3 separate regions of the Homo sapiens genome follow, and regions 1 and 3 are each linked to region 2. The links come from fine-mapping of genetic effects on gene expression. A gene starts in region 2. Each other region holds a variant in brackets. All regions are shown on one strand. Distances are between the middles of the regions. Region 1 has its middle 120 kb from the start of NNT-AS1. Region 2 holds the start of CCL28 (C-C motif chemokine ligand 28). Region 3 overlaps CCL28 (C-C motif chemokine ligand 28).

The links. PIP is the estimated chance that this variant, and not a neighbour inherited with it, causes the effect. A credible set is the group of variants that fine-mapping cannot tell apart.
Region 1: its variant is the best candidate, but not a certain one, in a credible set for the expression of CCL28 in whole blood (TOPMed, PIP 0.50).
Region 3: its variant is the best candidate, but not a certain one, in a credible set for the expression of CCL28 in whole blood (TOPMed, PIP 0.72).

Annotation. Positions count from the first base shown.
Region 1 is chr5:43,719,753-43,730,415 of GRCh38, reverse strand. No RefSeq gene overlaps it. Among named protein-coding and RNA genes, the nearest start is that of NNT-AS1, 120 kb to the right of the region's middle. The variant A/G (reference allele first, on the strand shown) is at 3,522.
Region 2 is chr5:43,406,561-43,417,363 of GRCh38, reverse strand. CCL28 (C-C motif chemokine ligand 28) reads left to right here and starts at 4,973. Exons shown (of 3, transcript NM_148672.3): 1 at 4,973-5,111. The coding sequence starts at 5,048.
Region 3 is chr5:43,378,914-43,389,716 of GRCh38, reverse strand. CCL28 (C-C motif chemokine ligand 28) reads left to right here. Exons shown (of 3, transcript NM_148672.3): 2 at 1,241-1,367; 3 at 7,665-10,524. The coding sequence ends at 7,857. Among named protein-coding and RNA genes, the nearest start is that of CCL28, 28 kb to the left of the region's middle. RefSeq lists an enhancer at 2,669-2,738. The variant A/G (reference allele first, on the strand shown) is at 6,961.

The DNA of each region.
Region 1 (10,663 bases), 310 kb before region 2:
ATCATGGTAACAATTTAAATGATTTTGCCCCCAACCAAAGGTAATGTTGTATTTTAAGGAGAGTAAAGAAAATCTTTTAATTCATTAGGATTGTACAGTCAGCCCACAAAACTTTCAGAATTTGGTGATTGTAATCGTCTTAATGAGAATGAGTATTTTTTTCTTCCAAGAGTTTAACATTGTTACCAGAAAGTAATATGAGGTTTTCTCCAAGTAGTTTAACTTAACTATAAAGGTCTGTCTTAAAGTGTTCTAATTTTTCATTGTCTTTTTCTATTTAATTCACAAATTTCTCATTTCCCCTTAAGTGAATAAACCATAAACTCAAATATTTTTCTTCTCATTGGCTCACAAGCACCATCTAGTGAAAAAACAGAATAATTACAGAATAGTTTCTCATGGGAATCACTATTTACTTTGTATTAACAAAGCCCAATACAATACCATTTTTTCATTGTTCTAAAACAGAATGAGATGTGTTCAATGAAACGTTATAGACAGGGCTAAAATTTGCATTCAAAAGTTGTTATTGTTTTGAATTTGCAGATATTGAGAACTAGCTTGCTTTCTATTTCCAACCCCTATTGGCCTTCCCACTACCAGGGACTATGAGTTATCAGATAGCATTTAAGTGATAAATTTTATGGTACCAATATTGCAGAATTGTTTTTGAAATTTATTGTTCTGTATCAGCCCACCCTTTGCTCTCTCCCTTTTCCTTTTCATTTCTCGTGCTATGTTTTTAAAAATATATTCACCAAACCATCTATTGAGGACAACACTTGCCCTCAAGAAGTTCACAGTTTAGTAGATTTAGATGTTAGGGAAATAAAGTATTACAGGTATTATGATAGTGTATAGTGTATAGTAGAATTAATCAATTCAGATAGAATTGGCTACTATTTTGCAATTTATTGTAGATCAAGAAGCACATCTTATTATACAGCAGAAACTCTTTTAGCCAGCCTCCACTTAACCAACTCACTACATTAACTGAAGCTCTTCATTGCATCTGTAAAATATATTGATTAATTCCCACTGTATACTGAATGCTTTGGGCTAGTAGGCTACTCTAAAATGCTCGTGGACTTCTGTTGCTACCAGCTAATTGTATGCTTAACAAGAGGCAACTGGGTTTTGTTTCCAAACATGTTCATGCAAGATTTACTTGCAGTCACACAATATTAATTACACAATTTAATTAAATAATACATCAACCAATAAAATATAAGTTTAAGTACTATTGTCAAATCAGGTTGGAGTGAAACAACTATAAAAGATTTGAGGAAAATCATAAAAACTAAAAGAATTCTGCATTCAAATTGCATTGAAGATGTTTTTAGGTTTTTACTCTAATTTTAAAAAAAAACTTACTTGATGTCTATAGATATGTTTTATGCAAGAGAGACAGTGTGCAGCATTTCTAGTATCTCAAACCTTAAGATGAAGTGAACAATGATGACAAAAGGATTAATAACCAAGAACCATATAAAAAAGTGGCAAAGAGGCTTAAGAATAATGTCAAAAAAAGCAAAAGCACAAAGGGAGCTCAAGGCTGTGGAAAAAAACAATAAACTTCGCCCTTAAAATCATATTTAGCGAAAAATGAGAGCAGGAGATGTGCACATCTTTGGAGTATGGTAGATGATGTCATAGTAAGTAGCAGAGAGAAAGTTGATCTCAAATCCCATTTTCCTCTGTTTCCTGTAAAAGAGAGTGAAACTTAGATGGAAAAAAGACCCTTACAAAGGACCTCATAACTCCTCTAAATTGCGTTCAAATGAAACTTTCACATGCTATTTCCAAGCATAATTCCAGAGCATGCTTTGAGCTGACGGAATCTGTAGTCAGCCATCTTTAAAGAATCAAGACAAACTAGAAAAGTGTTACAAGTGTTACAAATATATTCCTGACCAAAAATGGCAAGAAGTGGATAGTGCAAATGATGGACTGGACTGTTAATCATCTTCAGCTACATTCCAGAACAAATTATTAAAATCTTAGACTATGAGAATTTTTAAAGGGAACCATGTTGAGTATGGATCAGAATTAGTTCATAGAAAACAAGTCCTACCAGAACTAACTCATTTCTGGGTTTGTGTATTTATTACGTTAGTCAGTTTCTTATTTTTGTGTGCTTTTAGAAGATATTTGACAAAGCTTCTAAGATATTTTTCTGGACAAAAAGTGAAGAAATATGAGTTCAATATACACAGTTGTTTCTACCTAAAGTACCCAGATTAACAGATCAGAGTCAGCCTTGGAGAAGAGCTTGGAATGCATGTTGCCCAGTTTTAGCCTAAGCCCTACAAAATGATGACATCTTTTTTCCCTCAGTGAATCCAGTGAGAAAATTGATGCTGTATTTGCAGGTGACACAAAATTAGAAGGAACAGTCAACACATTGGATGAAACAGAATCAGAAACCTGATCTCAGAGGATAGAAAATGGGCTCAAATGAGTCAAGTTAAAAAAAAAAAAAAACTACATGTGTAAATGGGAGAGAAATGGATTCACATCAGCAGCATGTGTAGAAAAAGATGAAGGGTTTTAGTTAAGTTCATTGTAAGAAAAAGAAGTGTCAAAAGAGTTCATGTTATCATAGACTGTATTAATTAAAGAATTAGTAGCTTAGAGAGGAGATGCCCAGAATAGTCTGTCAGTGGTGTCAAATGTTACAGAAATGTGCAAGAAAATGCATTTGAGATATGTATTTGGTGATGAGGTTATTGTTTACTTTCCAAAGTGATTTCAGTTAAATAATTAAGGTAGGGACCAAAAAAAAAATTTTTAAGGAGCAAACAGAATGTGAGCAAAAGTACCCATTAGAGGGCTTTGATTGGTAAAGGGAAGAAAATAACTTTTAGATAGAGAAGATAAGCTAATATTAGATTAATGTTAAGTACTCTTGTTTTTTTAAAAAAACTTTGAAATTTTATGCAATTTAGAGTAAAACAATTAAAATTCAAAAACTACATGCTTAGTATTCCTAGATTATTATCCAGCTTCAGCTGTGCTGTCTCTAATAATCAGTAATTTTTATATTTTATTTTAATTTTTTTTAAGATAAGCATATCAGAAAGACCAACTCTGGGTGATACAAAGGAACTAGAATATGGTTTAGCAGAATTATTGGAGTAGTAAAAAGAAAAGAGGAATCTAAACTGTGAGCAACAGCAGACAGAAAATTTTCTGCCTATCAGCTCTACCATAAAGAAACAACCTGTATAGGAAACATGGGCCAGAATGGAACAGAGAAAAGAGTCAGAAGATGATGAAGAACCCAGACAATAAAAAGAGGAGCACTAGAAGTAAAAGGAGGACAGAAATTCTGCCCAAACCAGGCTAGACTACAAGCTTCATAATTTTTGAATAAGGAAAGAGTAATAGTTAACACCGAACCACAATATGGTTTTCTAGTTGAATAATTTGTAGCTTGTTATGTGGATATGTATGCTTAGGTAGATAATGAGGACTACAGCTATACCATGAAAAAGAGAGGGAGAAGAAGAGAGAGAGAG[A/G]GGGAGAGAGAGAAAGGAAAAGAGAGGGAAGAAAGACAGGGAAAACTACTCAAGAGCAGCCTGCCCATAAAAAGGAGTACTACAGACCCTGGGAGTGAAGCACATGATCCTTCTCATGGCACCACACCAAAACAACTGATTCTGTATTTGTAAAGGGTGAAAAAATCTTTCTGAAAAATTGACTCTACCAAACACATGCATGAAGTTAAGCAAATGTCAAATTGGTACAATTACTATATTTCTTTGCTTCTTTGTTTAGTATCACAAAGAGTTCAAAAATTACAAATAGTTTCAACTTACTAAGAAGTTGTTTTCTAAATGTTAGTTGGCAAATCAGTTCTATGACAGCAAAGTGTTGTGGTTCAGAGTGGAGCCAGACAGCCCAGATTCAAATCCTGATGCCACCACCTACTTAATTAATTGGGCCCTGAGCTTCCACATCTATAAAATGGGATAGCTACTCAAAGGATTGTTCTGCTGTAATTAATAAGTTAGTATATTGAAAGTCTTTAGGACAGTGGTTGGTACTTAATCAGTGTTAAACAAATGTTAGCTATTGTAATTAGCATCCTTATAGAAAGAGGAACAGGAGCATAATAGGGCCGTGGCTATGGGAAAAAAACAGGAGAGAAATACCATGTCACCAGGAAACTGATGATAAACAGGCATAAGTCATTTTATTGTGCTTTAAGGCATTTTGCAGATATTGTGCTTTTTTACAAATTGAAAGTTTGTAGCAACCCTGCATTCAGCAAGTCTGTCAGCATCATTTTTCCAACAGCATGTGCTCACTTTGTGTCTTTGTGTCACATTTTGGTAATTCACATAATATTTCAGACTTTTATATTATTTTTATATTTGTTATGGTGATCTGTGATCAGTGATTTTAATGTTACTATTGTAATCGTTTTGGGATTGATAAATGTTGTGTGTGTTCTGACTGCTCCATCAACCAGCCATTCCCCAATCTCTCGCCTTCTCCTCAGGCCCTCCCTATTACCTAAGACACAATAATATTAAAATTAGGACAATTAATAACCCTATAATGGCCTCTTAAGTTTTCAAGTAAAAGGAAGAGTTGCACATCTCTCACATTAAGTAAAGAGATAGAAATGATTAAGCTAAGTGAGGAAGGCATCTTGAAGGCCAAGACAGGCTGAAAGCTATGCTTTTTGTGCCAGTTAACCAAGTTGTAAATGCAAAGGAAAAGTTCTTGAAAAAAATTAAAAGTGCTACTCCAGTGAACACGTGAATGATAAGAAAGTGAAACAGGCTTATGGCTGATATGGAGAAAACTTGAGTGGCCTGGAGAGACGATCAAACCAGCCACAACCTTTCATTAAGCCAAACCTAATCCAGAGCAAGGCTTAACTCTCTTCAATTCTCTGAAGGCTGAGAGAGGTGAGGAAGCAGCTACAGAAGAAAAGTAGAAAGCTAGCAGAGATTGGCTCATGAAGTTTAAGGAAAGAAGCCATCTCTGTAACATAAAAGTGCAAGGTAAAGCATCAAGTGCTGTTGTAGAAAGTGCAGCAAGTTATCCAGAAGATTTAGCTAAGATAATTGAAGGAGGTGATCGCGCTAAACAAAAGATTTTCAATATAAATGCAACAGCCTTCTACTGGAAGAAGATGACATCCAGGAATTTTGTAACTAGAGAGGAGAAATCAATATCTGGTTTCAAAGCGTCAAAGGACAGGCTGACTCTCTTGTGAGAGGCTAATGCAGGTGGTGACTTAAAGTTTATGCCAATGCTCATTTACCATTCTGAAAATTCTAGAGCCCTTAAGAATTATGCTAAACCTACTCTTCCTGTGCTCTAGAAATGAAACCGCAGAACCTGGATGACAGTGCGTCTGTTTACAGCATGGTTTACTGAATATTTTAAGCCCACTGTTGAAAACTACTGCTCAGAAAAATAGATTTCTTTCAAACTATTACTGCTTATTGACAATGCACCTACTTATCCAAGGGCTCTGCTGGAGATGTGCAAGCAGATTAATGTTATTTCATGCCTGCTAACACAAGAGTCATTCTGCAGCCCATGAGTCAGGAAGTAATTTTGACTTCCAAATCTTATTATTTAAGAAACACATTTTGTAAGACCATAGCTACCATAGATAGTAATTTCTCTGATGGATCTGGGCAAAGTCAATTGAAAAGCTTCTGGGAAGGATTCACCATTCTAGATACCATTAAGGACATTCATGATTCATGAGAAGAGGTCAAAATATCAATATTAACAGGAGTTTGGAAGAAGTTGATTATAACCCTAAAGGATGACTTTGAGGGGTTCAAGGCAGAATGGAGGAAGTAACTGCAGATGTGATGGAAATAGCAAGAGAACTAGAGTTAGAAGTGGAGCCTGAAGATGAGACTGAATTGCTGCAGTATCATGATCAAACTTTAACATATAAGGAGTTGCTTCTTATGGATGAGCAAAGAAAGTGAGATGGAATCTACTCCTGGTGAAGATGTTGTAAACACTGTTGAAATGACAACAAAGGATTTAGAGTAAACTTCGTTGATGAAGAAAGAGCAGGGTTTCAGACACCAATTTGAAAAGAGGTTCTATGAGAGTAAAATGCTATTACACAGCGTCACATACTACAGGGAAATCTTTCATAAAAGGAAGAGTCCATCAATGCAGCAAACTTCATTGTTGTCTTATTTTAAGAAATTGTCACAATCACCTCAATCTTCAGCCACCACTACCCTGACCAGTCAGGAGCCATTAACATCAAGGCAAGACCCTCCACCAGCAAAAAACTATATATATATATGACTCATTTATGGCTCTGATAATTGCATTTTGTAGCAATTTAAGTATTTTTAATTAAGGTATGTACATTTTTAAAGACATAATGCTATTACACACTTAGTTGACTATAGTTTAGTGTAAACATAACTTTTTTTTAATTTATTTTTTTTTAATTATACTTTAAGTTTTAGGGAACATGTGCACATTGTGCAGGTTAGTTACATATGTATACATGTGCCATGCTGGTGCGCTGCACCCATTAACTCGTCATCGAGCATTAGGTATATCTCCCAATGCTATCCCTTCCCCCTGCCCCCACCCCATAACAGTCCCCAGAGTGTGATATTCCCCTTCCTGTGTCCATGTGATCTCATTGTTCAATTCCCACCTATCAGTGAGAATATGCGGTGTTTGGTTTTTTGTTCTTGTGATAGTTTACTGAGAATGATGATTTCCAATTTCATCCATGTCCCTGCAAAGGACGTGAACTCATCATTTTTTATGGCTGCATAGTATTCCATGGTGTATATGTGCCACATCTTCTTAATCCAGTCTATCATTGTTGGACATTTGGGTTGGTTCCAAGTCTTTGCTATTGTGAATAATGCCACAATAAACATACGTGTGCATGTGTCTTTATAGCAACATGATTTATAGTCCTTTGGGTATATACCCAGTAATGGGATGGCTGGGTCAAATGGCATTTCTAGTTCTAGATCCCTGAGGAATCGCCACACTGACTTCCACAATGGTTGAACTAGTTTACAGTCCCACCAACAGTGTAAAAGTGTTCCTATTTCTCCACATCCTCTCCAGCACCTGTTGTTTCCTGACTTTTGAATGATTGCCATTCTAACTGGTGTGAGATGGTATCTCATTGTGGTTTTGATTTGCATTTCTCTGATGGCCAGTGATGATGAGCATTTTTTCATGTGTTTTTTGGCTGCATAAATGTCTTCTTTTGAGAAGTGTCTGTTGATGTCCTTCACCCACTTTTTGATGGGGTTGTTTGTTTTTCTCTTGTAAATTTGTTTGAGTTCATTGTAGATTCTGGATATTAGCCCTTTGTCAGATGAGTAGGTTGCAAAAATTTTCTCCCATTTTGTAGGTTGCCTGTTCACTCTGATGGTAGTTTCTTTTGCTGTGCAGAAGCTCTTTAGTTTAATTAGATCCCATTTGTCAATTTTGTCTTCTGTTGCCATTGCTTTTGGTGTTGTAGACATGAAGTCCTTCCCATGCCTATGTCCTGAATGGTAATGCCTAGGTTTTCCTCTAGGGTTTTTATGGTTTTAGGTCTAACATGTAAGTCTTTAATCCATCTTGAATTGATTTTTGCATAAGGTGTAAGGAAGGGATCCAGTTTCAGCTTTCTACATATGGCTAGCCAGTTTTCCCAGCACCATTTATTAAATAGGGAATCCTTTCCCCATTGCTTGTTTTTCTCAGGTTTGTCAAAGATCAGATGGTTGTAGATATGTGGCATTATTTCTGAGGGCTCTGTTCTGTTCCATTGATCTATATCTCTGTTTTGGTACCAGTACCATGCTGTTTTGGTTACTGTAGCCTTGTAGTATAGTTTGAAGTCAGGTAGCATGATGCCTCCAGCTTTGTTCTTTTGGCTTAGGATTGACTTGGCAATGCGGGCTCTTTTTTGGTTCCATACGAACTTTAAAGTAGTTGTTTCCAATTCTGTGAAGAAAGTCATTGGTAGCTTGATGGGGATGGCATTGAATCTATAAATTACCTTGGGCAGTATGGCCATTTTCACAATATTGATTCTTCCTACCCATGAGCATGGAATGTTCTTCCATTTGTTTGTGTCCTCCTTTATTTCCTTGAGGAGTGGTTTGTAGTTCTCCTTGAGGAGGTCCTTCACATCCCTTGTAAGTTGGATTCCTAGGTATTTTATTCTCTTTGAAGCAATTGTGAATGGGAGTTCACTCATGATTTGGCTCTCTGTTTGTCTGTTCTTGGTGTATAAGAATGCTTGTGATTTTTGTACATTGATTTTGTATCCTGAGACTTTGCTGAAATTGCTTATCAGCTTAAGGAGATTTTGGGCTGAGACAATGGGGTTTTCTAGATAAACAATCATGTCATCTGCAAACAGGGACAATTTGACTTCCTCTTTTCCTAATTGAATACCCTTTATTTCCTTCTCCTGCCGAATTGCCCTGGTCAGAACTTCCAACACTATGTTGAATAGGAGTGGTGAGAGAGGGCATCCCTGTCTTGTGCCAGTTTTCAAAGGGAATGCTTCCAGTTTTTGCCCATTCAGTATGATATTGGCTGTGGGTTTGTCATAGATAGCTCTTATTATTTTGAAATACGTCCCATCAATACCTAATTTATTGAGAGTTTTTAGCATGAAGGGTTGATGAATTTTGTCAAAGGCTTTTTCTGCATCTATTGAGATAATCATGTGGTTTTTGTCTTTGGTTCTGTTTATATGCTGGATTACATTTATTGATTTGCATATATTGAACCAGCCTTGCATCCCAGGGATGAAGCCCACTTGATCATGGTGGATAAGCTTTTTGATGTGCTGCTGGATTCGGTTTGCCAGTATTTTATTGAGGATTTTTGCATCAATGTTCATCAAGGATATTGGTCTAAAATTCTCTTTTTTGGTTGTGTCTCTGCACGGCTTTGGTATCAGAATGATGCTGGCCTCATAAAATGAGTTAGGGAGGATTCCCTCTTTTTCTATTGATTGGAATAGTTTCAGAAGGAATGGTACCAGCTCCTCCTTGTACTCTGGTAGAATTCGGCTGTGAATCCATCTGGTCCTGGACTCTTTTTGGTTGGTAAGCTATTGATTATTGCCTCAATTTCAGATCCTGTTATTGGTCTATTCAGAGACTCAACTTCTTCCTGGTTTAGTCTTGGGAGAGTGTATGTGTCGAGGAATTTATCCATTTCTTCTAGATGTTCTAGTTTATTTGCGTAGAGGTGTTTGTAGTATTCTCTGATGATAGTTTGTATTTCTGTGGGATCGGTGGTGATACCCCTTTATCATTTTTTATTGCGTCTATTTGATTCTTCTTTTCTTCTTTATTAGTCTTGCTAGTGGTCTATCGATTTTGTTGATCTTTTCAAAAAAAAACAGCTTCTGGATTCATTAATTTTTTGAAGGGTTTTTTGTTTCTCTATTTCCTTCAATTCTGCTCTGATTTTAGTTATTTCTTGCCTTCTCCTAGCTTTTGAATGTGTCTGCTCTTGCTTTTCTAGTTCTTTTAATTGTGATGTTAGGGTGTCAATTTTGGATCTTTCCTGCTTTCTCTTGTGGGCATTTAGTGCTATCAATTTCCCTCTACACACTGCTTTGAATGCGTCCCAGAGATTCTGGTATGTTGTGTCTTTGTTCTCATTGGTTTCAAAGAACATCTTTATTTCTGCCTTCATTTCGTTATGTACCCAGTAGTCATTCAGGAGCAGGTTGTTCAGTTTCCATGTAGTTGAGCGGTTTTGAGTGAGATTCTTAATCCTGAGTTCTAGTTTGATTGCACTGTGGTCTGAGAGATAGTTTGTTATAATCTCTGTTCTTTTACATTTGCTGAGGAGAGCTTTACTTCCAAGTATGTGGTCAATTTTGGAATAGGTGTGGTGTGGTGCTGAAAAAAATGTATATTCTGTTGATTTGGGGTGGAGAGTTCTGTAGATGTCTATTAGGTCTGCTTGGTGCAGAGCTGAGTACAATTCCTGGGTATCCTTCTTGACTTTCTGTCTCGTTGATCTGTCTAATGTTGACAGTGGGGTGTTAAAGTCTCCCATTATTAATGTGTGGGAGTCTAAGTCTCTTTGTAGGTCACTCAGGACTTGCTTTATGAATCTGGGTGCTCCTGTATTGGGTGCATATATATTTAGGATAGTTAGCTCTTCTTGTTGAATTGATCCCTTTATCATTATGTAATGGCCTTCTTTGTCTCTTTTGATCTTTGTTGGTTTAAAGTCTGTTTTATCAGAGACTAGGATTGCAACCCCTGCCTTTTTTTGTTTTCCATTTGCTTGGTAGATCTTCCTCCATCCTTTTATTTTGAGCCTATGTGTGTCTCTGCCTGTGAGATGGGTTTCCTGAATACAGCACACTGATGGGTCTTGACTCTTTATCCAATTTGCCAGTCTGTGTCTTTTAATTGAGCATTTAGTCCATTTACATTTAATGTTAATATTGTTATGTGTGAATTTGATCCTGTCATTATGATGTTAGCTGGTTCTTTTGCTGGTTAATTGATGCAGTTTCTTCCTAGTCTCGATGGTCTTTACATTTTGGCATGATTTTGCAGTGGCTGGTACCGGTTGTTCCTTTCCATGTTTAGCGCTTCCTTCAGGAGCTCTTGTAAGGCAGGCCTGGTGGTGACAAAATCTCTCAGCATTTGCTTGT
Region 2 (10,803 bases):
ACACACATGCCCCATAATCATAAACTGTCCTGTGTTCTCTGCAGACAAAAATCCCATGGTTCAGTTTTTCTCTCACTCCAAACAAAACTGATGTGCCCAGCGTTCCTCTTATTCATGTCTTAGTACAAAAACTTAGTAAAAAAAAATGACATGGCATAGGGTTTTTAGTGGTTTACAGGTTCCTGTTGGCAGATGTCAGGCTTGCTTTTTAGCACCAGGGTAACATAATACCCTCCCATAAGGCTGTAATTCCAGTGGTGGTAATTTCATGAGTGCTTCAATAGTTTTGGTTCTACATGTTATAGCAGCTGTCTTCTAGTAACCACTACCCAACCCACGAACCTGTTCCAGTGCCCCCAGGAAAGTGTGGATGAAAGGGAGAGTGCTAACAACCCAAGGAGGAGTCCCTTTGTTTTCCAAGTCCCTGGATTCTGTCCCTATGTCTTCCTGCTGGCAGGGGCAAGGTGACATTTCCTAGCAGAAGAAATATGCACACAGTGAAAGAGAAGCTGTCTTGTCAAATACAAAAGCAAATAAAAGTACACGAGTGAATACAGGGGGCCTAATTGCAGGCTCATTCAAATTCAGTCCAGCCTTTCTTGTCAGTGCCCTAATAACTGTGTTATACAGTGGCATGATCATAGCTCACTATAGCCTCAACCTCCTGTGCTCAAGAGATCCTCCCACCTCAGCCTCTCAAGTAACTGAGACTACAGGCGCATGCCAGTGCCTGGCTAATTTTTAAAAAAATTTTTAGTATAGCTGAGGTGTTGCTATGTTGGTCAAGCTGGTCTCAAACTCCTGGGCTCAAGCAATCCTTCCACCTTGGTCTCCCATAGTGTTGGGATTACAGATATGAGTCACCACACCCAGCCTCCTGACTCTTATCTTCAGAGCACACGGCTTTGGTCCAGAGGGGCTCCTGTGGTTATGGCTGGTGTGTGTAATTTCACAGGTCTTTGTCACCTCCACAGGTTGGTTCTCTGTCCTCCTTTATCAAGACCTGTGGTAAGGTCCCTTTGCTTAGTGGAAAGGCTGGAATGCTGCTGTGGGTCTTCTCATTCAAGAGGTCACTATCTTTGCAAGTCTGTTGCTCTCCAAAGCTCCCATTCCTTATTATAACTCTGGTTCTTGATAGTGAATTGGAGCTTGGTTAAATGTAACTTGATAGCTGGGGTAAATTTGGACACCTGCTCTTGATCTTCAAAAGCAGCAACACCCAATGCAAATATGTGATCTACCCATGTGATTTGAAATATTCTGGGTTTCAATTACATATGTAATTGTTTTAGTCTGTTTTATGCTGCTATAACAGAATATCTCTGTTTGAGGAAAAAAACTCTCGAACTGTTTTTCCTCTGCTCTCATACCACAAAAATCATCAACACAGAAGACTTCTATAACCAAATATGTAGGGGGTAAATTGGTGCATACACCAAGCAGCGGACACCAGCTAGGTGTCCTCCAATTCAGTTCTGACACTATCTACCAAGAGATAGTGCCAGAACCAGAGGTTGAGGGCTCAGTCCCATGAGATCACCCCCTACTTCCCACCAGTCACAAGTCCAGACCTCCAGAACTTCTGAACAGCTGGCTCCAAGTTGGGGTTCCCACAACCTCTCTATGGGTTTGATTAATTGGCTGGAGTATGGGGGAAATTCAGCCAGATATCGGGCGAAATTCACCCCCAATATTTCACGTAGGTTCTTTTCTATATTCCCTAAGTGTTGGCCAGTCTGAGAAATAAAGGGACAGAGTACAAAAGAGAGAAATTTTGAAGCTGGGTGTCCAGGGGAGACATCACATGTTGGCAGGTTCTGTGATGCCCCCTGAGCCGTAAAACCAGCAAGTTTTTATTGGTGATTTTCAAAAGGGGAGGGAGTGTATGAATAGGGTGTTGGTCACAGAGATCACGTGCTTCATAAGGTAATAGAATATCACAAGACAAATGGAGGCAGGGCAAGATCACAGGATCACAGGACCGGGGCAAAATTAAAATTGCTAATGAAGTTTTGGGCATGCATTGTCATTGATAGCATCTTATCAGGAGACAGGGTTTGAGAGCAGACAACCAGTCTGACCAAAATTTATTAGGCAGGAATTTCCTCATCCTAATAAGCCTGGGAGCACTATGGGAGACTGGGGCTTATTTCATCCCTACAGCTTCGACCATAAAAGATGGCCACCCCCTGAAGTGGCCATTTCAGAGGCCTACCCTCACTGACACATTCTCTTTCTCAGGGATGTTCCTTGCTGAGAAAAATAATTCAGCGATATTTCTCCCATTTGCTTTTGAAAGAAGAGAAATATGGCTCTGTTCCGCCCGGCTCACCGGCAGTCAGAGTTTAAGGTTATCTCTCTTGTTCCCTGAACATTGCTGTTATCCTGTTCTTTTTTCCAGGTGCCCAGATTTCATATCGTTCAAACACACATACTCTACAAACAATTTGTGCAGTTAACGCAATCATCACAGGGTCCTGAGGTGACATATATCCTCCTCAGCTTATGAAGATGATGGGATTAAGAGATTAAAGACAGGCATAGGAAATCACAAGGATATTGATTGGGGAAGTGATAAGGGTCCATGAAATCTTCACAATTTATGTTCAGAGATTGCAGTAAAGACAGGCGTAAGAAATTATAAAAGTATTAATTTGGGGAACTAATAAATGTCCATGAAATCTTCACAATTTATGTTCTTCTGCCATGGCTTCAGCCGGTTGGTCCCTCCATTCGGGGTTCCTGACTTCCTGCAACACTGGAGTGGCTCACAGAACTCAGGGAAATACTTACATTTAACGGTTTATTATAAGAGACAGTACAGAAGATACAGATGAAGGCCAGACATAGTGGCTCATGCCCGTAATCCCAGCACTTTGGGAGGCCAAGGCAGGAGGATCGCTTGAGGCCAAGGTATGGGGGAAGGGATGCAGAGCTTCCATGCCTTCCCTGGGCACGCCACCCTCTAAGAACCTCCACATGTTCAGCTATCCAGAAGCTCTCCAAACTCTGCCCTTTTGGGGTTTTACAAAGGCTTCATTACATAGGCATGATTAACAACCATGTAGAAATGTGATTAGACAAAAAGCACATAATCTAAACCCAGCAAGTCCTGCCTGTTCAGGCTTTTCTTGGCCTGTGTAGCATTCCTTCCTCTAGAGTATGGGACAGAACCCTTTCTGGAATGAGGATCTTATGACCCACAATCAGATTAGAGTCCTGCCTTGGGCAGGTGAAAGAAAAACAGAAGGTCAGAGAGAGATTCCGTTTCCTGAGGCCTGTTCCTGAAGCCTAAAGTGCCCCAACATTATAATATAAAAAAAAGACTGGGCTGGGCACAGTGGCTCATGTCTGTAATCCCAGCACTTTGGGAGGCCAAGGCGGGTGGATCACAAGGTCAGGAGTTCAAGACCAGCATCTTGCCAAGATGGTGAAACTCACTCCAGCCTGGGCAACAAAGCGAGACTCTGTCTCAAAAAAAAAACAAACAAACAAACAACAAAAAAAAACTGTAACAAGGGTTATGGGAGTTATAAGCCAGGAACCATGGATAAAAGCCAATATATATATCATAACACCACAACCCGAGACTGAGCAATTTATAAATAACAGAAATGTATTCTCTTACAATTATGGAGGCTGGGAAGTCCAAGATCAAGGCTCCAGTGATTTCAGTTTCTATTTCCAAGATGATGCCACTTTGCTGCATCTTTTGGAGAGAAGGAGCATTGTGTACTCACCTGGCAGAAGAGCAGAAGGTACCAACCCATTCCCACAAGCCCTTTTTATAGTAGCATTCATCCATTCATGAGGGTGGAGCCATCATAACCTAAACATTGTCCATTAGGCCCTATCTCCCAGCACTATTAGGGATTAATTTTCAACATGAGCTTTGGAGAAGAAAAAAATATTCAAACCACAGCAGTAATTTGAAAACATAAAAAGAAATGGGTGAAATTAATTTTAATAATATATTTTATTTAACCCAAAAAGTCCAAAATACTATCATGTAATCAATAAACAGTATAAACATTATTAACAAGATATTTTATATTTTTTTCTGTACCCAGTCTTTGAAATCCAGTGTGAATTTTATACCCATAGTACATCTGAGTTTGGACTACTCATATTTCAAGTGCTCAAGAGCCACATGTGGGCTAGCGGCTACCACATAGGACAACACAGTTCTAGAGGAAGCATGGCATGACTTTGGAGGTCATCTAGTCTGACTTGTTATTTACAGCAAAGTTAAGTACGTTGCCTGAGGTTATACAACTTATTAGTAGATGAGGAACAATTAGAATCCAATTATCTTCATGCTACCCCATGCTTTTATTCACAAAGCTGATTGGCAGCAAAGCTGCACTAGCGCTCATGCCTCTTCACACCTGCTCTTGGGCTCTTTTCTACAAGGCATTGCCCCCCTTCCTGTCTTTCTCCTAAATAAGCTATTGTAAAAAGCTTCACTGGAAACAATTTGGCTGTGAACCAAGACTAAAGTGGGGTTTAATACTTCCATATCTTTCCACAAAGATACATTTTTTATGACTTGTCACCCTTGTCCCCAGAAACTCATGGTTTCCATAAGCTACTTAAAAACTGATTATGCAATGGGTCTCAACATAAGTGTCCATCAGAATCACCTATAGAGCTTTTACAAAATTCAAATGACTGGTCTCCTACCTGGGAGTTCTGGTTTACAAATCAGGGAAAGGGGAGAGTCATTTAGATTGATTTTTTTTAATGTTCCCCAAATGATTCTGATGCACACCCCACCTCACAGTGACCCTGCCAGCTGCCAGATCTCCATTGACATCCCCTGACCCCCAGGCAGGATGAACACAAGTTAGGAGCTTAATAAGTCGAGGAGGAGCCTGGTCTTAAGGAAAGAAACATGAGAAATAGATACCCTGAACACCTCCCAGGGCGGGGCCACCTGGCTTACTTTTCCTCTGCACTTTCTCTGTGCCCAAGGACACCTTTAGCCTCATTTCCTGATCGAACAGCCTCACTTGTGTTGCTGTCAGTGCCAGTAGGGCAGGCAGGAATGCAGCAGAGAGGACTCGCCATCGTGGCCTTGGCTGTCTGTGCGGCCCTACATGCCTCAGAAGGTGAGTGGGGGCACTGGACACTTAGGCCTTCACTGGAAAGGGGGGTATCTCCCAAATCTGTGCTGGAAGGATTGAGGTGGGGCAAGAATATCTATCTCTTCAAGCAGGAATTTCCAATTGATTTCTGATTACCTACAAGAGAATGACATAGCTTTAAATTCTAGATCTCCCAGAAGTTTCAGGAAGGAACCTCATTCTAACAGGCATACTACAAATTTTTGCCACCTGGAGGATGAGGTCCTTCCATGTAGGTACAACTTCGAGCTATGTTTCCTTTTCTGAAGACAGTATCTTAGAAAATCCCCAGCTAGAGGCTGGAGTAAAGCCCCTACTATTCATCTGTCTTCCTCCACACCCCAACCTGCTAAACGGTCTGAACACAACTGTGCACATTCCTGGAGGGAAATACAGACTTGGCCAGCTGCGTTCAAATTAGGTAAGTTGTAAATTTCCTGAGCAAAGTCAGCTCTATGGATACAGAAAACTGAAACTTCAGTCTGACCTTTAAAAAGGGAGGGCAGAGCTGAGCACAGTGGTGCATGCCTGTATTCCCACCTACTTGGGAGGCTACGGCTGGAGGATAGCTTCAGGCCAGGAATTCAAGATTGCAGTGAGCTATGATCACACTGTGAATTGCCACTGCACTCTGAATTGCCACTGCACTCCAGCTTGGGCAACATAGTAAAACCCCATCTGTTAAAAACAAAAAGAGGGGAGGGGAGGGGAAAGAGAAGGAAAGGAAGAAAGGAAAGGAAAGAAAGAAAAAGAAGAAAAGCAGGATGAGGGAGATTGAACCATACAAATTATGTCAAAGAGAATTTAAATCGTGAGTTGCTAGCATGTATTTGGAGATTGTAACTGCATTTGAACTAGAGGGAATCTCTTCTAAAGTAGCACTCACTACTATATTCAGGAAACCCTAAGTGTCAGTACTTAATACTTGACCAATGACTCTTTTCCATTGTCATCTTTTCTTTAAGCTTTATCCTGAACAGATTCTCTAAGTCTAGAGCAGAGGTGGAATATAAGTCTTTGGTCTGCTTTTTAAAAATCTGAGCCAACATTTTAAAACTGAAAGCTTTCTCATGTACATACTCATACATACACACATACAAATTGGATTTTAAAGCTTCTCTTGAGAAATCAGATGTGGCAACAATGATTCCACCATACCATGGCAAGAACTGGCTAAAGCAGATGAGCCTCTGAAGTTTGCTGTATTAACTGCCTGGTCCCTGCAGGCATTTGCTTAGGGACTCCCAATATAGTCCGTCAATGTACTGGGCTTATACAAATAAGCAACAGAAAAAACCTGGACAATCTCTTCTCAATTTCTACTAATCTATCTATCTTATCAATATAAAGACAAAAATTTGTCACTTTATGTTTCTGTAACATTTCTCAGAAAAATTCACCATTGAGATTTGGGGACTCATTTTCACTATTTCTGAAAGGCCTACCTGCTAAGGCTTCACTCCTAGTTCTGGTAATTCCACCAACTCAAATTTTTTACATAAAACTTTGAAATGTGTACCTCCATCCAGCTTCCTGACCTACTCCCACCTGTCCCCACAGCGGCAGCTCTCCTACAGGAAAGGAGGGAGGGAACAGCAGGTCGAGGAGGCAGAGGGTAATGAGGAAGGCTCTGCCATACCCAGGACCCACCTTCACATGGGACTGAGTCCTGGTAGAGACGGTGGGGTGGAACGGCAAAATGCAGAGGTGTGTGAAAAGGTACGGCTGCTGGTGATAATAAGGAAGGGAGCCGAGAGACCCAGCAATAGCCTTTTGGGTTAGTCTCGATGCTTTACCTAAGGCAGTTTAGGCCACAGGAAAATCACATTGCCTGAGAAGCTCCAAACTTCTGTCATTTAAAAATAAGTGATACTGGGTAAAAATACACAAGTAGGCCTGAGAACAGTCGTGGAATAGAGGGGCAACGCCACAGCTATTCTTAACAAACTTCCACTCAAGTGTCCATGTAAGCCAGGTGCCCTGTGGGAGGCACTTAAGTGATTCTGGCTCCAGGGAGGGGGTGGAAAACCAAGTGGGGAGGGAGGAAGGTAGAGAACACTCAACAACTCAACAGTGCAGAGAAGAGGACAGGTGGCCTTGGCAAGGGGAATAGGAAAAAGGCCTGTGCCAGTTTGGAACTTTGGGAAATATATTTTGTTTCCTTGAGGCAGAAAGCTGTTCCCTTATCTTAATGGTGTCTTAAATGGCTATCTTGTTGTGATGGCTCAATAACTGGCATTCCCTAAGTGTTTTGCATAAATCAGGAAGCAGGTGACTTTATCTATAATTAAAAGCCTTGGATTCTGCCCAAAGGTAGGGCACACTCCACCTCTGCTGACGTGGCTGCTGGCTCCCAGAACTCAATACTGAATCCATAAACATGTCTATCATCCTGTTTCGGTGGCCCTGAGCCTGATTATTTAAACCCACAATCTAGGACTTTGTGGGCCTGGCTGTTTTATTGTACATTAAGATTAAGGCTCACTTGTGCCCAGCAGATTCAAGTTAGGAGGTTTTGCTGCAGTGAGTCCCAAATTGCCTTCCCACTGACAACCTTCTTTCTCAGAGTACAATGGCTACTGAATCACACCAATACTTGCTAGAGATTTGCTGCTTGCATCCTAAAACGTTTACCTTTTGTTTTAATCATAAGACTCTGGCTAGGGAAGGTTACCACGAATATACATTTGTGACTCAATGTTGTTCTGCACAATTGGGACTCCAATTGTGGTCCCTAAGAGGTCTGACATAGGTGGGACTACAGGTGCATGCCACCACACCTAGCTAATTTTTTGTTTGTTTGTTTTTGGAGATGGAGTTTGTTGCTCTTGTCGCCCAGGCTGGAGTGCAATGGTGCAATCTCGGCTCACTGCAACCTCCGCCTCCTGGGTTCAAGCAATTCTCCTGCCTCAGCCTCCTGAGTAGCTGGGATTAGAAGCGTGCACCACCACACCCAGCTAATTTTTGTATTTTTAGTAGAGACGGGGTTTCACCATGTTGGCCAGGCTGGTCTCAAACTCCTGACCTCAGGTGATACACCCACCTCGGCCTCACAAAGTGCTGAGATTACAGGTGTGAGCCACCATGCCCAGGCACACCTGGCTAATTAAAAAAATTTTTCTTGTAGAGATAGAGTCTCACTATGTTGCCCAGACTGGTCTTGAACTCCTGGCCTCAAGCAAGTCTCCTGCCTTGGCCTCGCTGCCTGTAATCCCAGCAATTGGGAGAATGAGGCAGAAAGATTGCTTGAGCCCAGGAGTTCGAGGCTGCAGTGAGCCATGATCGCACCACTGCACTTCAGCCTGGGTGAAAGAGTGAGACTCTCATTTCAAAAAAAAAAAAAAGTAAAAAATTACCAAAAAAATAAAATTACCAAAAATGTCACAAAAATTAAAGAATTTATCCTAATATTATGAAAGTTACAAATACTTAGTGTATTTTCAAATATAAAAATTTAAAGAATTAAAAAAAGGAAAGTCCCTCTTCATCATTCCTTTAATCCCTCTCCCCTCTCCAGAGGGTTCTGCATATCCTTCCAGAATTTCCTCTATGCATTTAGCAATGTGAACCCACACATACATCCACACCAATTTTTTTTTATTATACTTAAAGGTCTAGGGTACATGTGCACAATGTGCAGGTTTGTTACATATGTATACATGTGCCATGTAGGTGTGCTGCACCCATTAACTCATCATTTACAATAAGTATATCTCCTAACGCTATCCCTCCCCGCTCCCCCCACCTTACGACAGGCCCTGGTGTGTGATGTTCCCCACCCTGGGTCCAAGTGTTCTCACTGTTCAATTCCCACCTATGAATGAGAACATGCGGTGTTTGGTTTTCTGTCCTTGCAATAGTTTGCTCAGAATGATGGTTTCCAGCATCATCCATGTCCCTACAAAGGACATGAACTCATCCTTTTTTATGGCTGCCTAGTATTCCATGGTGTATATGTGCCACATTTTCTTAATCCAGTCTATCATTGATGGACATGTGGGTTGGTTCCAAGTCTTTGCTATTGTGAATAGTGCTGCAATAAACATACATGTGCATGTGTCTTTATAGCAGCATGATTTATAATCCTTTGGGTAAATGCCCAGTAATGGGATGGCTGGTCAAATAGTATTTCTAGTTCTAGATCCTTGAGAAATCACCACACTGTCTTCCACAATTGTTGAACTAGTTTAGAGTCCCACTAACAGTGTAAAAGTGTTCCTATTTCTCCACATCCTCTCCAGCACCTGTTGTTTCCTGACTTTTGAATGATTGCCATTCTAACTGGTGTGAGATGGTATCTCATTGTGGTTTTGATTTGCATTTCTCTGATGGCCAGTGATGATGAGCATTTTTTCATGGTCTGTTGGCTGCATAAATGTCTTCTTTTCAGAAATGTCTGTTCATATCCTTCACCCACTTTTTGATGGGGTTGATTTTTTCTTGTAAATTTGTTTAAGTTCTTTGTAGATTCTGGATATTAGCCCTTTGTCAGATGGATAGATTGTAAAAATTTTTCTCCCATTCTGTAGGTTGCCTGTTCACTCTGATGGTATTTTCTTTTGCTGTGCACAAGTTCTTTGGTTTAATTAGATCCCATTTGTCAATTTTGGCTATTGTTGCCATTGCTTTTGGTGTTTTAGTCATGAAGTCCTTGCCCATGCCTATGGCATGTATGGTATTGCATAGGCTTTCTTCTAGGGTTTTCATGGTTTTTGGTCTAACACTTAAGTCTTTAATCCATCTTGAATTAATTTTTGTATAAGGTGTAAGGAAGGGATCCAGTTTCAGCTTTCTACATATGGCTAGCCAGTTTTCCCAGCACCATTTATTAAATAGGGAATCCTTTCCCCATTTCTTATTTTTGTCAGGTTTGTCAAAGATCAGATGGTTGTAGATGTGTGGTATTATTTCCGAGGACTCTGTTCTGTTCCATTGGCCTATATCTCTGTTTTGGTACTAGTACCATGCTGTTTTGGCTACTGTAGCCTTGTAGTATAGTTTGAAGTCAGGTAGTGTGATGCCTCCAGCTTTGTTCTGTTTTGCTTAGGATTGTCTTGGCAACGTGGGCTCCTTTTTGGTTCCATATGAAGTTTAAAGTAGATTTTTCCAATTCTGTGAAGAAAGTCACTGGTAGCTTCATGGGGATGGCACTGAATCTATAAATTACCTTGGGCAGTATGGCCATTTTCATGATATTGATTCTTCATATCCATGAGCATGGAATGTTCTTCCATTTCTTTGTATCCTCTTTTATTTCATTGAGCAGTGGTTTGTAGTTCTCTTTGAAGAGGTCCTTCACATCCCTTGTAAGTTGGATTTCAAGGTATTTTGTTCTCTTTGAGGCAATTGTGAATGGGAGTTCACTCATGATTTGGCTCTCTGTTTGTCTGTTATTGGTGTATAGGAATGCTTGTGATTTTTGCACATTGATTTTGTATCCTGAGACTGCTGAAGTTGCTTATCAGCTTAAGGAGATTTGGGGCTGAGACAATGGGGTTTTCTAAATATACAATCATGTCGTCTGCAGACAGGGACATTTTGACTTCCTCTTTTCCTAATTGAATATCCTTTCTTTCTCCTGCCTAATTGCCCTGGCCAGAACTTCCAACACTATGATGAATAGGAAGGTGAGAGAGGGCATCCCTGTCTTGTGCCAGTTTTCAAAGGGAATGCTTCC
Region 3 (10,803 bases), 28 kb after region 2:
CTACGTTTATATTAATATTTGAGAAATGCAATCCAGTTTACTAAGTATATATAGGCCCCCGGTACTCTTCTGGCTTAAGACTGTTTGAATTGATATCAGCACTCAGATAACTCAAATTCCTAAACACACAGATTTTCTTGTGATTCTTAATTGCTACCATGCTTCTGAAAGTATGTTTCCTATTAGAGTTGCTTGGGCCACAGCTAATCTTTGAGGCTAGTAACGCTTCATCTTTCTACCTTCAGGGTCTAGCGTAGTGATTCACGTATAGTGAGATGGGTGGATGAATGGGTGGATACGTGATAAATCCAATACCTTGTTCAGGATATTAAGAGTTTGACTTAGGCAGCACAGCATAGCTAAAGAAAGAAACAGTTTTAGGAAATAAATGCATTAATAAATGTAGGAACAACCAGTATTCACAAACCATAAAATTCTCCATTTTAAAGTATAAAATTCAGTGGTCTTCAATATATTCACAGAATTGTGTGATCACCAATATCTAATTCCAGCACATTTTCATCACTCCAAAAAGAGATCTTGTACCTGTTCACAGTCACTCCGTGTCCCCTCCTTTCACTCGTCCCTCTCCATCCCTTAGCCCCCCAGCCCCTGGCAACCACTAATCTACTTTCTGTCTTTATGGATTTGCCCATTCTGGATCTTTCATATAAAGGGAATCATACAGTATGGCCTTTCGAATCTGGCTTCTTTCATGTATAATCCCATAACCCTTTGAACATAACTCTTTAACACTTATTTTGCTGTGTTGGGATTATTATGGCCTGCCTCCCACTGGACTATTAAGCATCACAAGGACAGATTATGCCTTATTTCAACTTTGAATGCAGAGCTCAGGGCCTGTCACAGAATGGGCAATCAATAAATGTTTGCTGAACGAATGATGCTTTTCCAGTTCCAAAATGCATGAAACACCGTGTTGACCTCACTCCTTTCATCTTTGATCAGTCTGCAGTACCACCAGAATCCTTGTCTGTAACTCTTTTCATCTCTTTCACTTGTTTTGTGTCTTTGCCTAAATTTACATTTTCTCTTTCACAAATATAGCTTAAATTCCAGAAAGTGGGAACATGTCCTGCCCCAAGTCTGTATTCACAAAGCCATGTTTGCCCCTTGTTTGTGTGGATTAACATTGTTTCTCTGAAATCTTTAAAATGAGAACCATGCCAGTGTTCTATAAACCGTAAAATTTAACATTTTCTTTCTTTTCTTCTTTTAGCCATACTTCCCATTGCCTCCAGCTGTTGCACGGAGGTTTCACATCATATTTCCAGAAGGCTCCTGGAAAGAGTGAATATGTGTCGCATCCAGAGAGCTGATGGGGATTGTGACTTGGCTGCTGTCATGTGAGTGCTCATCAGCCGGGAGGTCTAAACCTGCACAGTGATTATTTCCCTGCCCAACGAATAATAGGTTGGAAAGGCTTTGCTTGATTACAACATACAAACAATCATCCAAACAAGGGAGGGAAGAGTAAATATTCTGTCCATTAGGCCCCAGGCTCCCTGGAGTAAATTCATAGTCTCTCTGTCCAAAGATGTCCTGAGCCCCATACCAGCACACCATCTACTTCCACCCTGTAGTGCTGTGGTTAGGACTAAATTCCCCCAGTCACCAAAAAGTGTTCATGACTTTCCCAAGCAAAACAAAACCCCAAACAAAAGATAACTCTGTTATATTTCATGGCTTTTAACCTTTTTTAGTATATGGGTTGCTGTCATTTCTACTTTATGAATTCATCAGGAGCATATTATAAAGTTCAAAAAGTTAGGCTGGGTGTGGTGGTTTATGCCTGTAATCCCAGCACTTTGGGAGGCCAAGGCAGGGGTATCGCTTGAGCCCAGGTGTTCAAGACCAGCCTGGGCAACATGGTGAGACCCCATCTCTACAAAAAACTTTAAAACTAGCCAGGCATGGTGGCATGCACCTGTAGTCCCAGCTACTTGGGAGGCTGTGATGGGAGGATCGTTGAGCCCAGTTCGAGGCTGCAGTGAGCCGTGCTCATGCCAGTGCACTCCAACCTGGGTGACAGAGTTAAATCCCGTCTCAAAAAACCACCACCACCACAACAACAAAAAGGCAAAGAAAAACAAAAGAAAAGGTTCAAAAAGAAGCGTGGAAATATCTATACCTGTCACAGTGCTATATGCAATCCAATCAGAAATGCCAATCCAATCTCTGCTTTTGATTCTGTGGTGTTGGTTCACAGTGAAGCCTCCCACCCCTGCCCCTGGCTCAGTTATTAAAAGCTTTGTTTGTATATGTACTTAACATTTCTATGGAGGCTCTAACATCTGAACTGCATTGGTATTTAGTAAATCTGGATTCTGACAACAATGCTGTGAGGAAAGCATAAATGATCTCCCAATCATACACAGGAGAAAGCTGTGACTCAGGTTACACGGTTCACTTGTGTACAGCTCGTGAATTGCAGAAACAGGATGTGAACCCAGGTCTCTTAGTTCAGAACACTTGTACACCTCCAATGTCATTCTAAAGCAGTGGTGGGACTAACCATAAAATACCCTCTCCAAACTCTACTGCATCCGAGTATCAGGCATCTCCCTGGCATGCTGGTTTTAACACCATTTGTGGCTCCAGGTGATGCTAGTGAGTCATTTGGTGCTCCTTTCTTTGGGCTATAAATAAACCCATTGCTTATGCCTGAGCTCCTGAGTCACTCAGAAACCTTATTCTTTCAGTGAATTCAACAAATATTTATGAATTAACAATTATGCACCAAGCACTGTTCTATATGCTGGGGATGCAGTGGTGACAAAATGGGTTCTGTCTGCCTAGAGTCTCAAGGGGACTCTTTATCCAGCTGGGTTCTGCAGATCATCTTAATGATTTGAGATGATCTCTGGAATTTGAAATATATTTTCCCCCCTTTCAGAGGGATTTATCCATTATTCAATTTTGAGGAAAAACTGCTCCAAGATAAGCGTTCTTAAAAGTTCAGAGGAAGAGTTTGTAAGATGTCTGTTGATAGACTTTCATCAGGTTAGGGGCTGTGAACTTCCTGAAATTTTTGTGTATGAACCTGTGAGCATTTTTAGAGGGTCCATAGGTTTTATAAGATTCTCAAAGTTTCTGAGATCAAATAAAGTTTAAAGGTCACACTCAGGGTCAGATGTAGGGGAGGAAACAATTCTTGATTCAAACTTGTATTAAGCATGAGTGTCTTTGTGGGAGAAGGGAGAAGCCTGAGAATTTTCTCAGCATCTCCTCAGTTCAAGCCACCACGTGGCTCCATTGGCTCAGGTGGTTTAGTCATTGGGAACCAGCATCATCTGTGGCACTCCAGGGGCTACATACCAATGAGGATTCTGAGGGGTGCTCCAAGTTCCCAACTTCTTTGAAAAATTCCTTGGTACATGTCTGGCCAAGATTCTACCAGTCTTTTATTTAATCTTAAAGAATATTGTTGGTAATAGTTGGAAAGTAAAAAATTCATAGACAATGCGTGGATAGACAATGCTCTAGGTAGTTAGAAACAGCTGGATATTTGTGTCAAGTGGACACAGCTGCACTAAATCTGTCTGAACCTGCTCCAGTTGCTCTGAGAAACTCCAAATTTTCAACTCCTCTCAATTCCTTCCACCTTATTGGCACATATCACCTCAGACTTGAAGCTTGAAGCTTGTAAGGGCTCCAATAGGACTCCCAGAAAGGCTTGGAGAAAAAAAACAGAGGAAGTTTCTGTGGGTGTATAAGAGATTCTGGAGGTTATCCAGGGAAGGTATTGGTAACAGGATTTTCAGGGATGTTTCTTTGGGATAAGCAGGTGTCAGAGATCTGAAAGGCATAGGAACAGAAATGATGTTTTGCTGTGATAAGGGAAAATATAATCAGAAACATAAGTCTTCATTTTAAAAAGGACTCAATTTTAATTAAAGAGGAACTAGGAAGCCAATCAGTTGGATCTAAAAATATTTACTTTATTCAAGCACAATTTGTAAATTGACCTCTCTGTGCTAAGAAAGCTGAAAAATACAGAGTTGTTATGACCTAATCTCAAATAAAATTAAATTTAATTCTGTAGTATTTTTTTAACCATAAATTACAGATCCTGTCTGTTGTGTTTCCTGATGTTCAACAAGAATAGATAAAGATTCTCTTGTTTTCAGATTAGTTTAGTATGGAGCATGTCTTTACTTATCTAAAATGTAGTCCCTTATCCCTGACTGGGTATAAAGACTTTAAGATTTGAGAAAGTGTTTAAGATGCAGAAAGCATTGCTAACACTGGAAATGTAATTCCCAAGTAGCATGTATTACTAATAACAATTAATTAATATAAGTCAACGTACGGTAAACTTACTAGGCTTCTTTCTTTTCTGCCTAGAAATAGGTCCTATGTTTTATACCTTATAAATGGTCATTGTAGTTTTTGATGCCTGAGACAGCAGTTTTCTTGTTCAAACTCCTCTACAGTGACTTCATTAATGAGCTTCTGAATGTTTCTGAACATAAATACAATAACAGGTTGTTTATCATGGCCGGGCGCGGTGGCTCACGCCTGTAATCCCAGCACTTTGGGAGGCCGAGGCAGGCGGATCACGAGGTCAGAAGATCGAGACCATCCTGGCTAACACGGTGAAACCTTGTCTCTACTAAAAATACAAAAAAATTAGCCGGGCATGGTGGCAGGCACCTGTAGTCCCAGCTACTCGGGAGGCTGAGGCAGGAGAATGGCGTGAACCCGGGAGGCGGAGCCTGCAGTGAGCCAAGGTCGCGCCACTGCACTCCAGCCTGGGTGACTCCGTCTCAAAAAAAAAAAAAAAAGTTGTTTATGTTGGGCAGAGGCCTGAGGATTCTTGAATCAAACAGACATTTTTTGTTGTGAGAAAATTTGAGGTTTTTAAATAGAATTATCTGGAAGGCTTGAGTAGTTTTTCAGATGTGGTTGTGAGGCGTTGTTGTGTTTAGAGGAATGGGTAAAGAAATAAAGTTTAAGGGATATTAAAGGTATAATCTCTATGGCAGGGCCACCCCTTTACGTCCATCAGACTATCTCCAGCTATCCTCCTGAGGGTTAAGAAAAAAAAAAAGGGGGATTGGCCTCAGGATTTCTTACAGTCAAAACTCTCCACCTACAAACTCACCGTTGGGAAGGTGGGGATTGGTGCCCATCAGAATACTATGGAATTGCGAGTAGGGGAAGGAATGTGGAATAGGCCAGCCCCGTTTCCAACATTACTTCATCTCTTTCTATCCTGGTGGAAAATACATGGGATCCAAGTAGAGATTTAAGAAGTTTTTAAACTTTAGGATTCTAAAACATCATGGGATCTCAGATTTGGGAGCTGTATTCTGGTAGCTGATTTTTTTCCCCAGTTGAATTACATTGAGAGGTTGCCTCACCAGCAAGTCTTTGAAAAAGCCCACATGCTAGTTGTTGCCTGTTTTCCTATGGTCCTCCACCTTTCTGAATCCTCTGTCTATATCTCTTCCATCTGGTTCTCTCCTTCAGCCCCGGTGCCAATGCCCCTCCCTGAATCCCATCTCTCTTATTTTTATAATGGACTTGAATCGTAGGTCTTTCCTGTGTAACTTATGGGCTTATCTGCATGTCACAGAAATCTTCTCTTTTTTTTCTTTTTGAGACGGAGTTTCCCTCTTGTTGTCCAGGCTGGAGTGCAGTGACATGATCTCAGCTCACTACAACCTCCACCTACCTGGTTCAAACGATTCTCCTACCTCAGCCTTCCAAGTAGCTGGGATTACAGGTGCGTGCCACCATGCCCAGCTAATTTTTGTATTTTTAGTAGTAGAGACAGGGGTTCACCACGTTGGCCAGGCTGGTCTCGATCACCCGACCTCAGGTGATCTTCCTGCCTCGGCCTCCTAAAGTGTTGGGATTATAGGCGTGAGCTACCGTGCCCAGCCTGCATGTCACTAAAATCTTTATCTGCTCAGTTTCTTTCTGACATCACAGGGAGAGGCAAGAGTTTTAGTCCTCTGGAAAGGGTAGGAGCTTCAGTGCCAGATTTTTGTTTGTTTGTTTGTTTGTTTGTTTTTGTTTCCTACGCAACAGTGCTACAGCCACGTTTTCTCCTATGATAGCAAACCAACTGACCATAGTGAGAATTAGGCTGTTTGTTTTTTTTTAAGACTCTCTATCTAATACACATAGGGAATATATTATTCTCTTATTAAGATGCTCCACTTCTTTCAAATTAATATTCCCCATATGCTGGCTTTATTATGTTAAAGCTCATTTGTAACTTTCCCCCGATTCTCCCCACTTTTCTCCCATTTCAGTAGTCCCTACATTAGCTGAAAAAGATTCAACTTGCGTCATCTAGAAAAATAGCAGCTTATTCTCTACCCCACCTCTGTTTTTTCCCTGAATAACAGGGTCAGAAGTTTCAATTTATCTGGATACGGAAATACTATATATGTAGAGCCAGCAGGATTTGTGACATTTGGTAAGAGCTGATGACCCCTCATGAGGAAATTAGAAGTCACCAATATCTTTTTCAACAAAAAAAATTATTCTAGTTACCAGAAACTGTGCATGCTGTAGCATTCTCCCAGCCCACTGTGAAAACTTCATATAGAAAAATGAAAATGAGCCAGGTGCAGTGGCTCATGTCTGTAATTCCAGCACTTCGGGGGCTGAGGCGAGTGGATCACCTGAGTTCAGTAGTTCAAGACCAGCCTGGCCAACATGGTAAAACCCCATCTCTACTAATAATACAAAAATTAGCCAGGTGTGGTGGTGCACACCTGTAATCCCAGCTACTCGGGAGGCTGAGGCAGAAGAATCACTTGAACCCGGGAGACGGAAGTTGCAGTGAGCCGAGATCATGCCATTGCACTCCAGCCTGGGTGACAAGAGCAAAACTCCATCTCACCAAAAACAAAAAAAAAGAAAAGAAAAATGAAAATGAAAGCACATTCTGAACTGTGGCATAGATCTATATCATATTAA[A/G]ATGTTAACAAATGCCTAGAATATCTTAGTTTTGTTTTGTTAATTTAAGTTTTAAATTAAGTTTAAGTTTTAAATTAGTTTCAGTTTTGAATAAGGCGTTTTCAAGACACTTCTAGACTATTCCTCCTTCAAGGAGCATAACTCCAGTAGGAAAGATGAGACAAGTACTCAGATAAAAGACAGAATAAAGTAAGTGCCAGAAAAGAGATAACTCTCACCGTGGAGAATCAGAGGGGAAAAAAGACGGCATCTAGCTGAGAGAATCTACAAATCCTTACGGATCAGAAAAATCTCAAACAAACCTTAAGGATGTGTTTGAGATGGGCTGTGAGGATGAATTGGTTTTGTTGGGTTCACTTGGTTTTTATTATTGTCTCTTTTCCTCCTTTTCTTCTTCCTCTTTTTTCTCCCTCCTTTTCTCCTTCTTCTCTTCCTCATCCAATTCCTTCTTCTCCTTCTCTTTCTTTTAATACTCTCTGATGATATCTGAGGACCCACAGGCAGCAGTGTTTGTAAAGTCAAAATTGAACCTTGTGGTGCTCAGCTTTAGAATTCACTTCATTTCTACACTTAATTCAGAAATTTAGTCTGAATTTAGTCTCTAGGAATACAGTGTCCCAAAGTGGGAGCTGCATGTAAGTCACTAAGTGATTATTTATATATGTTTTATATCAGTGACTTTCTTTTGCTTCCTTTTCTAACAGCCTTCATGTCAAGCGCAGAAGAATCTGTGTCAGCCCGCACAACCATACTGTTAAGCAGTGGATGAAAGTGCAAGCTGCCAAGAAAAATGGTAAAGGAAATGTTTGCCACAGGAAGAAACACCATGGCAAGAGGAACAGTAACAGGGCACATCAGGGGAAACACGAAACATACGGCCATAAAACTCCTTATTAGAGAGTCTACAGATAAATCTACAGAGACAATTCCTCAAGTGGACTTGGCCATGATTGGTTGTAAGTTTATCATCTGAATTCTCCTTATTGTAGACAACAGAACAAAACAAAATATTGGTTTTTAAAAAATGAACAATTGTGCGGTATGCAAATGTAGCCAATAATATACTCAACTGGAAAATGAAATGAAAAGATAATACTGGCTGGGTATGGTGGTTCACACCTTTTATCCCAGCACTTCGGGAGGCTGAGGCAGGAGGATCACTTGAGACCAGGAGTTTGAGACCAGCCTGGGCAACATAGCAAGACCTCATTTCTACAAACAAAAAAAAAATTGGCCCGGCATGGTAGTACTTGCCTATAATCCCAGCCACATGGGAGGCTGAGGTGGGAGGATCACTTGAGTCTGGGAGAGTTTGAGGTTGCAGTGAGCAGCCTGGGTGACAGAATGAGACCCTGTCTCTAAAAATAATAATAATAATGATAGTGTATATCTTCATATAATATTTTAAGAGGAGCATATAGATATAACTTCTCCCAACTTTTTAATTATAGTTTTCCAAACTTACAGAGAAGTTAAAAGAATGGTACAATGAACATCTATATATCTTTCACCACAATATTAATCATTGTTAATATTGTGTCACATTTGCTTTCTCTCTCCTCTCTTTGTATGTGTTTCTATATAAAATATTATAACTTTTAAAATATATCTTGTTTTGCTAAACCATTTGAAAATAAGTTGCAAAAATCATGACACTTCACCCCTAGTTTCTTTTTGGTGTTATAACTTGACATACCCTAAAATAAAGACATTTTTCTACATAATCACCTTATCAGTTTTATACCTAAAAAATTAATAATTTCATCTAATATATTCCATATTCAAATTTTCCCAACTATTTAGAGAGCATTTTATGTAGTTTTTTTTTCACTCCAGTAATCAATCAAGGTTGACATACATATTGCAAATAATTGTTATTTTTCTTTAATATCTTTCAATCTAAGAAAGTTCCTCTGTCTTTTTTTTTTAATTTTTAAAATTATTTTGTTGAGGGAGGGTCTTGCTGTGTCTTCCAGGCTGGAGTGCAGTGGCACAATTTTGATTTTGGCTCACTGAAGCCTCAACTTCTAGGGCTCAAGCAATCCTCCCACCTCAGCCTCCCGAGTATCTGGGATCAAGGTGCATACCCACCACACCTGGCTAATTTTGTTTATTTTTTGTAGAGACAGGGTCTCACTATGTTGCCCAGGTTGATCTCAAACTCCTGGGCTCAAGCGATCCTCCCACCTTAGCCTCCCAAAGTACTGGGATTATAGGTGTGAGCCACAGTGCCTGGCCTAATTATTTTCTTGTGATCAAATTCAGGTTTAATGTTTTTGGTTAAGAATTTCCTACGTGAATTCGTGTACTTATTTTGTCATTTAGAGTTCATAAATATTAGGGTTTATTTTCTAAATAGAATAGTTTAAACTAAATATAACTTCAAAACGTCTAGTTTGAGTAGCTACCGTTGTTTGGATTGAAATTTTCTGATACTGAAAAGAACAAAAAGCCTGCCTTTCTGCCCAGAACCTTTTGCCTCCCCCAGTCAGTTCTTGGAGCAGCACTAGTTAGGGGCCCAGAGTTCGGCCTTCTGTGTGGTGATTTTACGCTCTGCCTAAACAAGGAGCCTACATCTTTTAGCTCCTATTCCACCCTTCTCACACGTTTTTGTTGTTGTTTGGTTGTTTTTTTTTGAGACAGAGTCTCACTCTGTTGCCCAGGCTGGAGTGCAGTGGCACAATCTCGGCTCATTGCAACCTCCGCCTCCCGCGTTCAAGTGATTCTCTTGCCTCAGCCTCCCAAGTAACTGATATTACAGGCGCCCAGCCACCACACCCCGCTGATTTTTGTATTTTTAGTAGAGACGGGGTTTTCCCACGTTGGCCGGGCTGGTCTCAAACTCTTGACCTCAAGTGAACCACCCGCCTGTGCCTCCCAAAGTGCTGGAATTACCAGCGTGAGCCACCATGCCGGGCTCACACGTTTGAGTTGATACCATTGTGCCATTCCTCTTTTGGCCTCTTTTTTGTCCATAGAGGCTTCAAGATAGATAGGTAAGAGCCCAGTAGTGTTCATAAGAAGCCAATAGAGAGCAGGAGCCACTTTATCAGGTGGCAGGTGTCCTGGGCCTCCCTGCTGGCTAGTCCCAAGCGGTGGTGTTGCCAGGATGTCTTGGAGGTGATAATGGGACACACAGAGGCACTGAGTCTCCATAGGTTAAAATGCCACCAAAACTGGCCTTTGCCTAATATCCCTCATTGACTATTTAGCATTTAATTTATTTATTTTCCTGACATTTCTGCAAGCTTTGTATTTATATTTCCACTTTATAGATGAGGAAATTTGAGGCTCTTAGAGGTAAAATGACTTGCCCAGGTCACACAGGAAGTGGCAGAGACAAGCTTTTTAAATAAGAAAAAATTAATAAAATATAATATGAGAGTAACTTAAAATATTAATAAACCACAATTTTAAATTAATTAACCGTGATAACCAACATTAATAAAAGTTAAGATACCAAAACACTGGTGTCTAATTCTTTCAACTAACAACTTGAATTATTTTCCATTTTAAATTAATTAACCGTGATAACCAACATTAATAAAAGTTAAGATACCAAAACACTGGTGTCTAATTCTTTCAACTAACAACTTGAATTATTTTCCATTTTATTTCTTCTTACTAGATCGATCTGCAATTCTACACAATTGTTGGGCAGCTATGAATGACAGTAGGTTTACATGATATATTTTAAAAACTGATTTTTCTGCCACGCAAATAATTGAACTTTGTCTGAAGATAGTGTGCCTGGGAAACCAGATTTTTTTTATTTTTATTTTTATTTTTATTTTTTTGAGATGGAGTCTTGCTCTGTCACCAGGCTGGAGTGCAGTGGTGCAA